Regions from separate parts of the Homo sapiens genome. Here region 1 is linked to region 2. The links come from fine-mapping of genetic effects on gene expression. Tissue or cell type: whole blood. Region 2 holds a variant in brackets; the other region holds the start of a gene. All regions are shown on one strand. Distances are from middle to middle.

The links. PIP is the estimated chance that this variant, and not a neighbour inherited with it, causes the effect.
Region 1: it holds the start of HTRA3, and the variant in region 2 is fine-mapped to the expression of HTRA3 in whole blood (TOPMed, PIP above 0.99).

What each region holds. Positions count from the first base shown.
Region 1 is chr4:8,264,822-8,272,821 of GRCh38, reverse strand. It overlaps HTRA3 (HtrA serine peptidase 3), which reads right to left and starts at 3,068. Exons shown (of 9, transcript NM_053044.5): 1 at 2,469-3,068. The coding sequence starts at 2,853. It overlaps LOC105374373 (a long non-coding RNA gene), which reads left to right and starts at 2,641. Exons shown (of 2, transcript XR_001741572.2): 1 at 2,641-2,715; 2 at 3,426-4,216. RefSeq lists a silencer at 5,383-5,532.
Region 2 is chr4:8,398,392-8,406,643 of GRCh38, reverse strand. It overlaps ACOX3 (acyl-CoA oxidase 3, pristanoyl), which reads left to right. Exons shown (of 18, transcript NM_003501.3): 7 at 601-689; 8 at 6,992-7,088. Among named protein-coding and RNA genes, the nearest start is that of ACOX3, 38 kb to the left of the region's middle. RefSeq lists a silencer at 3,023-3,220. The variant G/A (reference allele first, on the strand shown) is at 3,769.

The DNA.
Region 1 (8,000 bases), 130 kb after region 2:
CCCATTTCCCCACCTGGCTCCGTGGGCTCTGGTGGCGACAGGGCTCTCGGGTCCTGTGCAGGTCTCTGCCTTGCCCATGCCCTCTCTGTCCTCCCCATCCTTCCCCAGGCAGTTCCCAGTCCTCCTCCACAGCTTGGCACAGAAGCGCCTCCTCTGGAGAGCCTCTCCTGACCTTGCTGGGTGAGACAGATTTGGGTCGGTCGCCACAGTGATAACAACATATGAAACAACGTGGTCTGGGGGTTGCCCATCAGGCAAGGGGCGTGTGCCTTCGTGTCTGGCAGCAGCTCTCCTGCAGGTCCCCGCTTCTCATTTGAGGAAACTCACGGTGAGCAAGTGGTCTAAGGTCACCTCATCGGGAAGAGGTGCGCTGGGACTGCAGACCCCGGAGCACTGAGGCCTCAGCCCATGACCCCCCACGCTCACGGCCACCTCCTGGCCTTCTGAGCTCCCCATGCACCTGTCTCTGGGGATAAGACTATTTTCCTCCTCCCTTCTGTCCCCTCGATGGTCTGTGAGGCTTGAGGGCACCAACAGGGTCTGCTACATGGCTGTGCCCTGTCACCAGCCTGGGGCCAGCCAGGCACACAGAGAAAGTGCCTCATGACGCGAACTCCAGAAGTCAGTGAGTGTCTCAGAACACCCAGGCTGCCTCCAGCTCCCTGCCAGCCCTGAGCCCTGCAGCCCTATTCTCATAGTGCCTTCCACGGTGGGGAGCGGGGTGGGGAGGTGGCCCCCATGCACACAGCTGGGCTGCAACGGGCAGGCCCAGGAAAGGTACCCCAGCACCAAGCCCCAAACTGATGTGCCACTGTGACAGTGCAGCAGGCGTTGAGTCAATGACAACGTCTCCAAGACCCCGCAGCCCCACACTCGCACCCCTCAGCCTCCTGGGCAGTCTCAACACAAGCCGGACCTCATCACCCTCACCCCCATGATGGTTTGAACATGTTCCCTCCAAAACAGAGGTGTTGCCAATGTGATGGTATGAAAAGGTGGGGTGTTAGGAGGTGATGAGGTCACAAGGGTTCCTCCTTTCGAGCGTGGGCAGAAGCTCCTTATGAGAGAGGCTACAGGCAGCGTTCGGCCTTGTCCCTGCCTGCACTTCTGCCGTGTGAAGACGCAGCTTCCTCCCTTCCGCAGAGTGCAGCCCTCACCAGACAACCAAGCCTGCTGGCACCTTGGTCTTGAACTTTCCAGCCTCCAGAGCTGCGAGAAATACATCTCTGTCCTGTATAAACTGCCCAGTCTCAGGCGTTGTACCAGCACAAGGTGGACTGGGACTCCCCGCCAAACCCTGCGGTGGCTCTTCCACATAATCCTAGCTAATCTCGAATGATGCTTCCCACACGGGGCTCCCAGGAACCCCAGCGTGCTGGGAGGAGGTCACGTGTTCTGCCAGAAAAGAAGAGCTCTCTGTTGAAATTCTCTGGGGAAGCCCTGGGTTTCATCAATTGAGGACACTGCAGGTTTTCTCAGAACCTCTGATAGATTGAGCCTGTGAGTCTCCACTACAGGAATAGAGCGCTCAGTTCCCCAACCTTTTTACACCATGAAAACACTTGGAATTGTGTTCAGCGGACCGCAGAAAAAATGAGGAAGCCCTCTGCAGGCTTCCCAGGAGCCCCGGCAGTTGGTGCTCCCCATGGTGCTCCTGAGGCTCCACGGAGCCTGTTCTGGCAGCTACTGCATCTCTCCCTGCCACCTGCAAGCTGATGGCACGCAGGACCCTGACTCCTATCCATGAACCTGGGGCCCGTCGCCTGTCTTCAGTGAACCCCTGTCCGGCCACAGCAGAGTCTGCTTTCCTAAGAGGCACCCCAAACAGGGAAAAAGGTACAGCAGGTTTTCCAGCATTTTCCTCCACGTACAGAGTCAACCTGCACGGTGAGATGCAACCTAGAGCCGACTGCCTCAAGGGAGGCTGTTCTAGGGTCTGACCCCGACATTCTCTCCCCCAAGCAGCCTCTCCCTGGGGCGCCCTAAGCAGTTCAGGGACCTGCACCCTGACCCTTCCCACACAGTCCTGTGGAGACATGCACTTAACCACAGTCTCCAGGAAAGAAGGCATCACCCAAGAGGGCACCCCGGCTGGAGAGTTAGGGCAGGAAAGAGTGCCCTTCACTCAATACCCGGACAGAGCAGGGGTCCAAGGATCAAGGGAATGGGCACGAGACATCAGTTCTGAAGAGACCAGAGCTGGAAACAGTCCTAGATGAGGCCCCTCGGGTGGCCAGGAGACCACCGGGTTTCCCTTTTGACTCTAATTCTGTGACCTTGGGGACAGCGGTTTACCTTTCCGGGCCTCAGTTTCTTCATCTGAAAGACCAGAGGGCTGGTGGGATGATTTCTGAAGGGCCACCCGGTGGTGCCCAGGGAAGGGCGACCTCGAGCTCGGCCCTAACTCCCGGCCTTAGTTTCCCCAAGAGAAAGAAGCTTCACTTCCTCCCTGGCCCCCGAGCGCTTACCCAACGGGCAGGCGCCCTTCTGCAGCTGGCGCACGGGCGTCCCGGAGAGCTGCAGCGCGCGGCGGCTGGCCGCCTGCAGCGCGCACACGTTGGCATAGGTGTGCCCGTCGGTGCCACACACGGCGTGCGACCAGCGGCAGCGGCATAGGCCGCGCACGCACTCCAGGCTCTCGCCGCAAGGCGAGTCCAGAGGGCCGCCACAGGGCTCGCCCTCGCTGGCGGCGCACACCAGGCAGCAGTTGCAGAGGTCGGGCACGTAGCCGCCGGGGCAGCGGGGGCTGGGACACCGCGACACGTCGCAGCGCGCGGGACACGGCGCCGCAGGGGGCTCCCGGGCCAGCGCCAGCGCGGCCAACGCGGCCAGGAGCAGCGCTCGCGCCTGCATGGCGGCAGGGCCGGCGGCGGGTGGCAGCGCGGGAGACCGGGCGGGGGCCGGCGGGGACAACGAGGCCGCTGCGGGGCCGGGCGCCGGGCGCCTACGGATGGGACTGGGGCGGACGCGCGGTCACATGCGCCGGTGGCTCAGGCTGGCGGGCGTCAGGGCGGCAGGGGCATCCCCAGGGCGCAGGGAGCGCAGGGACCAGCTCCCTCCAGCCTGACGGTCCGCGGGCGGCGGGTCCCGCGCCTTTAAAGGCGACCGCCCAGCCCGCCCTCGCTGGAAGGGGCGGCCCGGCCCCTCCGCCAGCCCCGCCCAGGCCCCGACAGGGCCCCGCCTGGCCTTCCGGGCCTGGACCCACCCGGCAGGCCTTGGGACTCTGGTCGGCCTGGTCGAGAAAACCCGAGGCTACAGACACGCAGGGGTCCTTTCTGGTGGGGACCCCCGGGCCCAGCCTATCCCAGAAACGTTGGGGGATGCGTTCTCCCCGCTCTGGAGGGGTCTGTCCGTGTCCAGTCTCCTCTGTGCCTCAGTTTCCTCCTCCAGGAAAGGGGAATTGACAGCATTTCTCAACCTCATAGGGTCGTTGGAAGAACCACAGAGGCCATGGCTGAGCAGTGTTCCCGAGTCCTCGCTGTCCACGGAACCGGAAGCTGTTTCCATTCTCATCATTGCTCCTGCATTTTCTGCAGGGCCCCTTCAGACCCAGGTCCCATCACGAGAGTCAGAATCTGGTGACAGTGCGTCAGCTGATGGGGTGAAGGCTGCGGAGTTGTGAGAGAAGGCAGAACCCCCCTTGGAGGTGAATGTCAAGCCTGAAGAGGAAGGATGGGAAGCGGGAGCTGGCCGTGACCTGGGCAGAGGCTCCCAAGCAAAAGCAGGTCGGGGCAGCAGGAGATAACGCCGCGCGCACAGCCTGGAGCTGCGGTCTTCACACTGTGTGTGTTCCTAGTACCCTGGGCTGCCTGGCGAAGCCTGGGTGTCCTTTTCAGAACGATGTCGTCAAGTAGATTTAAACGCATAAAACAAAGACCATGGGGTCACAAAGGGGAACAATTCTATCAAAACACAGTTATCAAAATACATGAAACAATTCATGACAGCGTGGCCTATGGGCTTCTTTATCAGCATGTTAATGGCAGGTTCTGGTCGGTCTGTCGTCTGATACCAGTGGACACTTCGCAGCAGCCCTGTGCAGAGGGCTGCCACTGGAGACACCTTCGGTGAGGGCGGTAACATGGGGATGTAAACACTGCTTCTGCTGGCCGTGGAGCCACAGGCCCTGCTGGCTGGGGTCAACTGCACCCCCAAAGGAATGAATGCTGGACTTCAGTTGGAGTTGTTGGGGTAAATAAAGACGTTTTTCCATCCAGGTTCACAGATACCCAAGTTAAGAATGGGGAGGGGTACCTCTGGTCCAGAGGAGGGAGGGGGAGCTGGAGGTTAAAGGGCCTCGGGGAATGGGAAGGTGGAGGGGCCTGATCCCTGAGGGCCCTGGGTCCTCAAAGGCCTGGGGAGGCGTTGAGTAGGGAGCGGCCCCATCAGACAAGATGTCTGGGGAGGATGAGGTGGGAGGAGGCGGGGCGCCAAGTGTGAGCCCCCATAGGACCCAGAGAGAGTGAAAGGTTGAAGGGTCCCAGGGGACGGGGAGAGAAGGGACCTGGAGCTTCTCCCCCTAAAAGGCCCTTTGACAAGGGGCAATAGCACCTGCGTTTCTGCCTCTACAAACCTCAAGTGCACTTTACTTTGAAGATGTGGAGAATTTCAGGCCATTTTTTGGAATGACCCAGAATGCTAGGAGTTGGGGACCTCAGGGCTGGGCTGAACCTCCCTCAACCTTGGCCAGGGCTCCCGGTTCATGTCTCTGCAGGGTGGGCTTGCCTAAGGCGCAAGGAGAATTTTTCACGTGCCCAGGATGCCTGCCCCTCGAGTAAGCCTTGGTGGGCTACTGTGGCCCAGAGCTGGCTTTTTGGGGGGCCTGTGTTTTCCTGCAGACACCTGGCCCTGAAGATCAACACTTTTCCATCCCTGGATCCTTCAGTGCGCAGAAAACTAAGTCCCTGGGAAGGGCCCAAGAGCTCATTTCCCCTAAGCTTTTCCTCTACAATGGGGAAACTGAGTCTCTGAGAGAGTCCAGGACCGGCGCTGCAGCAGGTCAGAGTTTGCACAGCCTGCCACAGCTTCCAAGGAACCACAGCTACCGATGTGTAGGCCCTGAGGCTGCTGGAGCGCTCTGCATACACTTGACTCAGTCTTCACGAAGCGCCTGAGAGGTGGGCGTTAGGATCCTTAGAACAGGGCTGGGGGAGTGCAAGGCCAGAGATTCTGGCAGGTGGGCCTCAGATCTTGGCCTGTCCTTAGGTCAAGTCCTTGCTCCTCCCTGGAGACCATGCTGCCCCCAACGGTCACCATCTTGACCACCTTGCAGTGGGGATTTAGTCCTCTTGTACAGAGAGGGAAACTGAGGCCCGGAGTGAAAAGACCCTTCTCTGCTCTGCAGCTGGGATGCAGTTCCCTGGGGTGGCCTTTGCTCTTCCCTGAAATGGGCAGGCAGGGCTCACAGTGGCTGCCTTGAGCTTGGCAGGAGCCCAGCGCTGTCCTCAGGAGAGCCGCGCCCCCTGCTGCTCCCGCCCTGCACTGCCTCTCACTCAGTAAACTTTGGGGCCTCCCATCCCCAACCCTGAACACCTGACTTAGGGGCCAGGAGTAGGAGAGGATTCCCCAAGGGCCTGGGATCCACCCGGGAGGTTCCTCTAAGTCTCTGGCTTCCCAGCACAGGACCGCCTCTGTCGTCAGCCCAGAGCTCCAGATACAGGCTCCGCCAGGCCAACGTGTGCAGGCGCAGGGCCGGCCCTCTGGCCCGTGTTATCTCAGCTCGTTCTTCAACAATGCCAGGAAGCTTGTTTAATTTACGTACACCCCTCCTTCGCTCATTTCTACTTACTCCCGCTTGTCACCCTGCCCGAAATATTGATAGTTCTTTACAAACAAGCATAAGATGAGACGTTGCTTATCCTCAGTGGAATGGAATTCACTCCCTCCAGGCTGGGCCTGGGTCTGCCTCTCTCCAGGGTACTCTTGTCCCATGCCAGGACCCCATGGCCCCATCCCATCCCTCCATCTCCGCCCAGAGCTGGACAGCAGTGCGCATCCTGGGCCTGCAGAGGAGCCCTCCAAGCTGTGGGCAGGCTCGGCCCTTTGGCTTGACCCCTGCCCAAGTCCAGGCTTCGTCTCAGATGAGGTCATCACTTACACCACTCCAGGGACCTTGAAGACCATCATCAGCTGTGATAAGACGCGGTGGCTGTGTGAGTGGGTGACTCAGAGGGTGGGCTCTGCTCAGGCTGATGGGTGGGGGGTGGGCGTAGGTTGTGATATGGGCCACCCTTTCTGCACCTCCCAACACTGACATCAGCTCTGCCGTCCTTGGGTGCTTCTGTAAGCTCTGGGAACAACCCCTCAAGGGGGAATGCCAGTTACAGCCATTTTATAGGTACAGAAAGCCGAGCTAGGGGAGTTTACACGACTTGCCGAAGGCCCCTCAGCCTTTAGGTGATGGACCCAGGCTTAGGAAAAGTCGGATCTGACCCCAAAGTGTATGTTCTTCCTCCAGAGCCACACTGCTGTTCCATACCCATTTTATGGAAGGAAAAACTGAGGCCCACAAAGGGAAAGTGGGTGGCTGAGACAACCAGGCTAACTGATACTAGTAGGTCGCATTGATTGAGCTTCTGTGATGTACTGTGTACTAGGGACTGTGCAGGTGTCTAGCCCTTACCACACCCTCTGAAGGAGGTCTTACTATTGCCATGCCCATTGCACAGATAAAGAAAGCAAGGCACAGAGAGGCTCAACAGCTCATCGCTGTGTCCAAGATCACACAGTGAGTGAGCTGCAGCATTGGATTGGAACCTAGGCAGAGGGACTCATCTTGTACAGAAGCGAAGTGGAGGCTCACAGGAGGAAGGCTGGGAGGAGGGGGAAGGAGCGGGGAGATGGCTTCGAGGGCATGGAACCCACCCTGGCTGATGAAATGAAACGATGAATCAGGGTCACGCAGCTGGGCAAGGGTCTCCTTTTTCTTTTTCACATGGCGCTCCTCCTTTGGCTTTCTGGAGCCCGAACCCCTCTTGGAAATCACCCTGACTCCACCCAGCCCTGCCAGGAGGGGCTGAATGTGAACACCCTGGACCACAGCGGCCTCTGCCTCCTGGGAGGGGATGTCCTGTCCAGGGAGGGGGCTCTCCCAAGACTGCCAGCCCCACCTGCCCGCAGACGGTGCTGCTGTCCTGGAGGCCGCTCGGCCTCTGTCCACCTTCTGAGGGGCCACTGGCCAGGGGTCGTCTGAGGCCTCCATCCTCCAGTGGGAGCTGGGGTGAGGTAATGGCCTAAATTGTGGTTCTGGCCACCTGGGTGTCAGGAATAGGGAAGCTGTCGGGGGTGAGTAGGGGGGACACTGCTCTGTGGGGTAAGGCTGGGATGCTTGAGCTGCCTCTGTAGGGTCCCAGGGGCCTGGGGGACTGAAGAGGGCCGGGAAGGTGGGGCTTCCGCCCTGAGGGGCAAGGAGGCCTCTGGTGACCCTCGGGCTCCTGCGGGGAAACAGCTGCTCCTCAGGTGCCTCCTCCACAGTGCGAGTGCTGAGCCCGTTCCCACTGCTCCCTGACCAGGTGTGGTTGAATCCTGTGACCATTCCCATGTCCTAGGGAAGAACGCAGAGGCTCCGAGAGGTGAAGTGACACCCCACCCCTCATCCCTAAATGCCACCACCTCTAAGATACGCTCGGGCAAAATGCCTCAACAGCTCACACCCATGCACAGCCGTCTCTATCTGAAACACACACAAACCTCCACCCGCTGTCGTCTCTTCCCTGACCCAACCTGACCCCCTCCCTCCCAAGTCCTGGGAGTCAGCCCCACCCTCGTCCTAGAGACTCCACGGGTGGGGACAGCAGTGCATCCGGCCTCCCTGTTCCCAGGACCCCCACTGCAGGGACTTCCTCCTCCATCCCTCCCGGGCCCCAACTCCCACACCCAGCTCCAGCATCACCTGAAACTGCTCCACCTTCCCAGACCCTGATTTCCAGCACACCTCATCCCACGCTACCTGGCCATGTGGGCCTCCATTTCCAGCCCACCCCGTCCCATGCTACCTGGCC
Region 2 (8,252 bases):
ATGTGGTCTTACCTATCATTGGAGATGGCTCACTCTCCTTATCCTGCCTTTGTCTTGTATCCAATAAGTATCAGTGCAGCCTGGCCTTCGGGGCCACTACCGGTCTCCGTGTCTTGGTGGTAGTGGTCCCCCGGACCCAGCCGTCTTTTCTTTTATCTCTTTGTCTTGTGTCTTTATCTCTATGCTCTCTTGTCTCCACACACGGGGAGAAACCCACTGACCCTGTGGGGCTGATCCCTACAGCCCCAGCGCTGTACTCTGTGCCTCCGTCTCCACATGGCCCCCTCTTCCCCACACCCACTCCTCTTCTGATTCTCATAGGACACTTGCCGTGGGATTTAGGGCCCACCTGGGTGATTTGGGATGACCTTATCTTGATGCTCTTAAATTCATTATATCTGCAGGACCCTATTTCCAAATAAGCTTCCATTCCCAGGTCCTGGGGTTAGGACTTGGATGTATCATTTCTGGAGGATGGTTTAACCCACAGCCGCCCAGCGTTGAGCCCATGGCCCACCCTGTGGGTTTCTGAACACATTTGTTTTGATTTTTGTGTGATTGTAACAGTTGCTGTTTGCTGCTTTCTGTGGCTTTGTATAGATCCGGGACCCGAAGACCCTTCTTCCCATGCCTGGAGTGATGGTTGGCGACATAGGAAAAAAACTCGGGCAGAACGGTCTGGATAATGGGTGAGTGACAGAGGCTGCTGAGCCCTGAGCTTCCTGCCAAGGCCCAGGCTGCGTTGTCGCTCATGTCTGAGATCTCACTGGCCCCATGGATGCCATGCCCTGCCCTCTTAGACTCAAATGCGGTGGGGACCTACGCCTAGCCCCCGTGCATGCACTGGCCACGTCCTGCTTGAACTCCACTTTGGGAGGCCAACTTGATCAGAGACCTCAGCAAACCAGCTTCACCTTGGCAGGCGGCTCCACACTCTCAGATCAGACCCAGACCTCTGTGTACAACTGGTGGGGCCCCTGCCTGGGGGGCTGCCTCCTCTGTGTGAGGTCCTCCTCAGCATCCTGAGCCTCCCCCGGCTCGGCCTCTGCACACATCCATGCTGATCTCGAGGGACCCATATCTGCAGTTTCTGCCTCCAGAGTAGGCTTGCTCCTTTCCGGGTAATCCCAGTGTCACAGCACTTAGAAAGAGAATTCCGCTGGCTTATTTGTTTAATCAGCCCACATATATCTATTTAGCAGCACACATGTGACACCGGGTTGGTGTGGCCAAGGCCTGGCTGAAGGGTTGGATGGGGCGTGCAGAGGGGAGGGGCCTAGAAAGACTAATGAATGCTTGATGGCCACATGGAGGCCTGGGTGGCCGGGGAGAAGTGGCCAGTGATTTTGGAATGTGCAGCGTTTCAGGTGGAGGAAGCAGTGGGAAGTGTCAGGCCCAGGCCTGTGCTGGGATGCAGGCGGGGTAGGGAGGCCAGGCCGCAAGGGCCTTGAGGGTCTTTGAGGGATTGGATTTTGGAGCTCCAGGTCATTAGCAGCATGACTTTTGGAATGAGACAGATGTGCAGCCGGCCCTTTGTGTCACCTTGACCAGCTTTCTTGGCATTTCCTCATCTGTAAAGTAGGTGACAAGAGAGGTCCCTGTGCCAGGGCCCTGCCAGGCCCTGCCTGAGCAGGCCGGGCTTGAACTTCCTGGCCACTGGCCCATTTGGTGCCTCCCTCACTGCGAATGCTGGACTCCACACGCTGTCTCCCCCGAGAGCCTGATCCAGCAGGGTGTAGACCCCTCTGTGCCCACGAGATGATTTATAACTTGGGGGTAGTGGGACAAGGTATGACCATGCCTGAGCCTGATAGCCTGAAAGATGTCTCAGGAGTGTTTCTAGATATGCGTGTTTCATATAGTGTTTCATAGCGAGGCTGGTGGAGAGGAGAGGAGCCTGCCTTACAGGAGTTGGAAATAACTGGTTATCATGACCAGGTTGTCTCCAGAGGGAGAAGATGGGCCAGTGGGCATCTGAGCGCTCAGCGATGGAGAAACCTCCTTCTGCCTGTCTCTTCTGAGAAGTCAGGGTGATGGGCAGGGAGTGTCTTAAATCTCTGCTTGGCCCTTTAAAACAGGCAGGGCCCCAGACTGTACTAAAGAGGAAAATCTTGATTGATTTTTATACAGTGTCAACTTGAGAAGAAAGTAAAAGGACATTGTTAAAAAGCAAATTCTTGTGATTTCAGGCAAAAAAAAAAAAAAAAAGCAAAACAAGACACATATGCACAGCCCTCCTAACTCCACCTGTCCTGCAGAGTTCTGGGTTCTCACTGGCTTATACTAAAATAATACAAGGAACCTGCTAGTTAATGTTGGAGCTGGCAGGGAGGAGAGCGCCACCCCGACCTGCGGCTGTCAGTTCTCTTGAATGACTACTTTCGCAGGGTGCCTGGGAGGCGCTTGGCATGGACGGTGCCCGTGTAGCAGGTATGGAGGGTCGCTGTTCAGGCCCTTCGCCCTCAGGGCAGCGGGAAGCCCCAGCCATCTGGAGGATGTAATGCGGCTTGGTCTGTTTGAGAAGGATGGCTCTGGCCTCAGGGTGAGAAGCTCTGAAGCGCTGTGCAGGAAATGGGGTGTAGGAAGCACTGTGTTGTTCTGGAGAATCTGCATCCTTTTATTAGACCCGGCTGATCCCTTTCAGGGCTCTGCAGCCACAGGCACTGTTACCCATCTACTGAAGTGTCCTATGTGTGCACGTAAGGCCCGACAGGCATCTCCACCCGGGCATATGGCGGTGGTGAATTGTCACATCCAGTGGGTGGCCTCGGGTGTGAGCAAGGCTCTTCTTCACTGCTCATTCAGTTTCATGAATGAGAGGCTTTGACATTATTTTGGGACATTGCAGAGAAACCCTGCACTTGGTTCCCCCCTAATAAACGTATTTCTAGAGATTGAATCCACACCTCTTACTGGGATAATATTCAAAGGAGCATTAGATCAAACCATTAATGATTAATACATCACACTGATATGGTAAAGCCTCTTGTAAGACTCAGAAATACGGTCTCCTATAGGATCGCCACTAACACAATAACGACCGCCCTTTGACGCTGGTTCAGAGCTGCTCCACCAAGCCAGGTCACTGAGCCCCCAGAGCCTTTCCACCGTGTCTCTCTGCAGGGTGACAGGGATGCAGTGGGATTCGTCCATCTTTGATCCCTGAGCCTTTGAAGGCCTAGGTTGGGCTGGGATGGGAGCCAGCCGGGGTGATGCAGGCGGCCTGCTCTCCGCCCCTTTCCAGAAATGCACATTTCCCATCCAGGGCTGGAGGGTCTGGGCAGGGCACCCAGCAGGGGGCGCAGTGATACCAGTGTTCCCTCCGGGTTTCCCAGCCAGTTTCTGCCTGGATGTCTGTCTTTTCCAAGATCAGCATTATAATTTAGTGATTTTTGTTACCAATGTTGAAATCATTTATCTTGAAAAAAGTGGTTACAATTTGTAGGTTAGATTTTGTCACTTTACAAGAACTCCTGAGTATGTGGGATGACTGCCTACAAATCCAAGGTAAACGTAAATTGTGTGGATTAATTTTAGCCAAATAGCTCTAAAAGCAAAATCATAAAGATCTTCTCAAGTGATAGTTTCAGCCAGACTCTTAAGGTGGGCTGCACCTTAAGGGTCTTTCTTCGTGCGTTTGCCCTGAGCTGAGGCGGTGGCTGGGAGGATGGCTGCCGAACTCAACGGCCTGCTCTGGCGGCTTGGCTGGGCTGGGCTTGGGGGGCCCTTCCAGGCCCCAAAGGAGGAAGGAAGCTGCTGCAATAAGAA[G/A]CAGGATGTCCAGGGCGCGGGGTGTGTGCTGAGGTCTGGGCGCTTCTGGGATTGGAGTGAGGGTTTCTGTGCCACACTCAGGCCTCCCGTGCCACGTGCATGTCCAGTGACACACACACACAACTCCTGTGCTGTGCACACACACACCTGTGACACACGCACACGTCTCCCGCTGGAGACACTGGATCTGGCTTGTATTTGAGTTGGCCACATGTGACCACCACTGTAATAGCTTTTGTGGAACAGAAGGGATCCCCTGAGAATTCGTGGAAGTTTGCTTTCCTTTGAAACTCACGGGAATGTTTTTGCAAGTATAAATATATTCTGTGTGGTGAGAATGGGGGAATAATTTCCACTCCTTAAAAAGGGCGCTGACTGTGACCGGATCATACTGGAAAAGGCATTCCTTGGCTTTCAAGTAACAGGCTGGAGCACGCTGGGGCCATTGGCACCGAGGCAAGGTTTTTCTCACGAGGTGGGGTGTTCTGAGTGTGCGGCTGTGGCATGGGGGAAGCTGCTACCAAACTGGGCAGCTGGGCCTAGGGCTTTGGAGGAGCTGGCCCCCCCGCTGCCCTTCACTTCCTGCAGGTGGGCAGGGGCCTGGCAAAGCAGCCGAGAGCTCTTCCCTCACCAGGTCACCCAGGTTTCCCTAAGGAGCTCCAGCCCCGTCCCCACCCGGCCCCAGGGCCTTGCTCCTCCTGGTAGTGTGGAAACTGTCGCTGTGTCTTTCCCTCAGGCTGTCCTGGGAGTCAGGATCATGGCCTGGCCCTTGTGCCTCAGAGGATGTCGTCTGCCCCACCTGACTTGTTCATACCATGCCACTTACGTGCCCGTCCCTTAAGTCTGGCAGGCCCCATGCACGGTGGCCCCCTCATGGAGGGGGGTGAGCCCCGGGAGACTGCTGAGAGGCAGCTAGCTCACCCAGGAACCAGGAACGTTGATGGTTGAGGGATCCCACCCTGGGGTCCGCCTCATACCCTTCCCAGGGTGGGGCATAGAATTCCCAGGTGGGCCGAGGGCTGCCTGGTGTCAACAGTGACTGCATGGAGGGCATGAGGCCAGGAGAGAACCTGGTGGACGGGGCACCACAGGCAGGCAGGACCACCTCATGGCAAGGCGGTGATGCTGTTAGAGGGGCAGATGGGGCACCACAGGCAGGTGGGACCACCTCATGGCAAGGTGGCGATGCAATTAGAGGGGCAGATGGAGGTCAGCTTGGGGGGATCCTCCACATTGGCCTCCGCCATTCCGAAGGCCTTTGGGAAACGGCCCAGCTCCCACAGGGAGGATGGGCTGAAGAGGCAGAGTTAGGAAAGAGCCAATATGGTTGCTGCAGGAAATCAGCCCAGGAGAGCTGAGTAGGGATGGAGGTGCTGGGTCCTAGGTGGGGATGGAGGGGAGAAAGTGAATCGGGCCAGCACAGCAGAGCTGGCAGCCCAGGACCGGGTGACAATGGGGGTGTGGGGGCATCCTGAGCAGGACTCAAGGAAGAGCCCACGCAGGAAACGGGTGCCTCTGGTTCCCTTCCAGCATGTGAGATTATTCTTTATAGATGAGTCTTCTGTGGTTTAGTAAAAGACTATTCTGTAGGCAGGGGTCCCCAACCCCGTGGTACTAGTCTGTGGCCTGTTAGGAACTAGGCCACCCAGCAGGAGGTGAGCATCGGGTGAGCCAGCAAAGCTTCCTCTGTGTTTATAGCCACTCCCCATTGCTCACATGACTGCCTGAGCTCCGCCTCCTGTCAGATCGGTGGCGGCATTAGATTCTTATAGGAGCGTGAATCCTACTGTGAACTGCGCATGTGAGGGATCTAAGGCGAGCGCTCCTTATGAGAATCTAATACCTGATGATCTGTCACTGCCTCCCATCACCCCCAGATGGGACCATCTAGTTGCAGGAAAACAAGCTCAGGCTCCCACTGATTTTGCAATTTTGCATTATGGCTAATTGTATAATCATTTCATTATGTGTTACCATGTAATAATAATAGAAATAAAGTGCACAATAAATATAATGTGCTTGAATCATCCCGAAACCACTCCCACCTCCCCCTCATTCGTGGAAAAATTGTCTTCCATAAAACCGGTCCCTGGTGCCAAAAAGGTTGCGGACTGCTGCCCTAAGGCATTGCAAGTGAACTTAGGAATCAGACAAGTTGCTATAGGAACTATTGATATTTTGAAGTTTGTTTTGGGGGGTTTTTGCACAGTTTATGTAATATTCTTAACCTAGCATAGCCTTATTCCCTAGACTGTTGTGTAATAGGTTTTCCTGACCAGACAACCATAACAGGTATCTTTGGTTATTAATACATCATGATCCATAACAATGTGTGTGTAATCCTATGCTCAGCTGTTCAAAAGAAGTGAATTTCCTTGCCGAGGGAGCACCAATGCCATCACACCAGTTATTTTGTTTGACTGAAGAGTTTTAAACCTCATTTTGCCAATATTATTACACTGTGGGTTCTGGTTTAAGATTGAAATATGAGAATCAGAGATTCCAATCTTTGGAAACACAGTTCCCGTCTTTTCTGTTGAATATCTGGAGTTCTGTACTTGGAGTACAACTTACCATATACACAATGCTTTTATTATTATTATTATTATTATTATTATTATTATTGAGGTGGAGTCTTGCTCTGTCACCAAGGCTGGAGTGCAGTGGCGTGATCTTGGCTCACTGCAACTTCCGCCGCCCGGGTTCAAACAATTCTCCTGTCTCAGCCTCCTGAGTAGCTGGGACTACAGGCACATGCCACCACTCCTGGCTAATTTTTTTTTGTATTTTTAGTAGAGACGGGGTTTCACCATATTGGTCAGGCTGGTTTCGAACTCCTGACCTGAGGTGATCCACCCACCTCGGCCTCCCAAAGTGCTGGGATTACAGGCGTAAGCCACCACACCCAGCCTATTTTTTAACCTACATTTTTTTCTTTTTTAGAAACAGGGTCTCACTGTGTTGCCCAGGCTGGTCTCAAACTCCTGGGCTCAAGCAATCCTCCTGCCTCAGTCTTCCAAAGAGTTGGGATTCTGGGCGTGAGCCACTGTTCCTGACTAGACTACTTTTTTGAATAGAAAGTTGGTTGAATGTTCCTGTCTACTTGCCCTCTGCCATTTTCTTTGTCCTCGGGGATTGCATCAGCTTTTAGGCTGCCCTTGGAGAAGAGAAGAGCCTCAGGGCAGGACCCCTGTTTAACAGAAGCCCTGCTGCTTCCCCACAGTTTCGCCATGTTCCACAAGGTCAGAGTTCCTCGCCAGAGCCTTCTGAACCGGATGGGAGACGTCACCCCCGAGGGCACCTATGTCAGCCCCTTTAAGGTACAGGCATGGGGGGCCGTTCGTGTGCCGTGCTTCCCAGGTGCCTTCCTCTGCAGGGCCTGGCTCTGTGCTCCTCCCTGCACCTGGAAAGGAGACCCCTCCACGTAGGCCAGGTGTCGCTGGGGCATACTTCTCCTGGCTCGGGTTCTGGTGCTCCCGCTAGAAGGGGACTCTTGGGGCAGCCACAGCACCAGGTGCTGGTGTCCAGGGGGTGAGTCCGGGCCTTACAATGCCCACTCCCCATCGGGGGCTGCGATTAGAGGACTGCTCGCTTCCAGTGATGCTTCCCTGAGGATTTGAAGGAGACGGGTCTCCTGGCGAACTGTCCACAAAGGGGGACGACAAACAGAGTTCCCCGGTGTCCAGAACTCACGCCTGGCTTAAGTTCACGGAGAGCAGAAGAGAGACCGTGGTCCTGGGGAGCGATGGCCCAGGTCATAGCTGATGACCCTCAGGAATCATGAGCTCACAGCAGGTGGGCCACCCCGAGCATGCACCCTTGGAATAACAGTCCCCAGCAGCATGCAGCATCTGACATCAGGAAGCACGGATGGAAAAGGAGCATGATGGGGATGCCCAGAGACACACAGGGTGCGCAGAGTGGGAACAGCAACACGAGACCAGGAGCTGCTCACAAACGGAGATGTTAATCCAACATCAATTAAAAATAAATGATTGGAAGAACAGGCACAGCATTTGGGATAACTATCTCAGGAGGATGAATTAGGGATTGGAAGCTTGTCCTCTAGAAGGCAGAAGGAGAGGATTAAAGAAAATGAAGGCTGGGTGCAGTGGCTCACGCCCGTAACCCTAGCACTGTGGGAGGCCAAAGTGGGCAGATCGCTTGAGCCCAGGAGTTCCAGACCAGCCTGGGCAATATGGCAAAACCCCGTCTCTACTAAAAATGCAAAAATTAGCCGGGCATGGTAGCGTGTGCCTGTGGTCCGTTACTTGGTGGGAGGTGGGAGGATCACTAGAGCCCAGGAAGTCAGGCTGCAGTGAGCTATGATTGCATCACTGCACTCCAGCGTGGGCAACAGAGCGAGACCCTGTCTCAAAAGAGAAGGAAAGAAAGAAATGAAGTTTAGAGAAATAAAGGAGAGAAATGTCTCTAAATGAGAGGGGAAGAAGGCTTTTGGTTGAAGGGACTCTTGGAGGACCAAA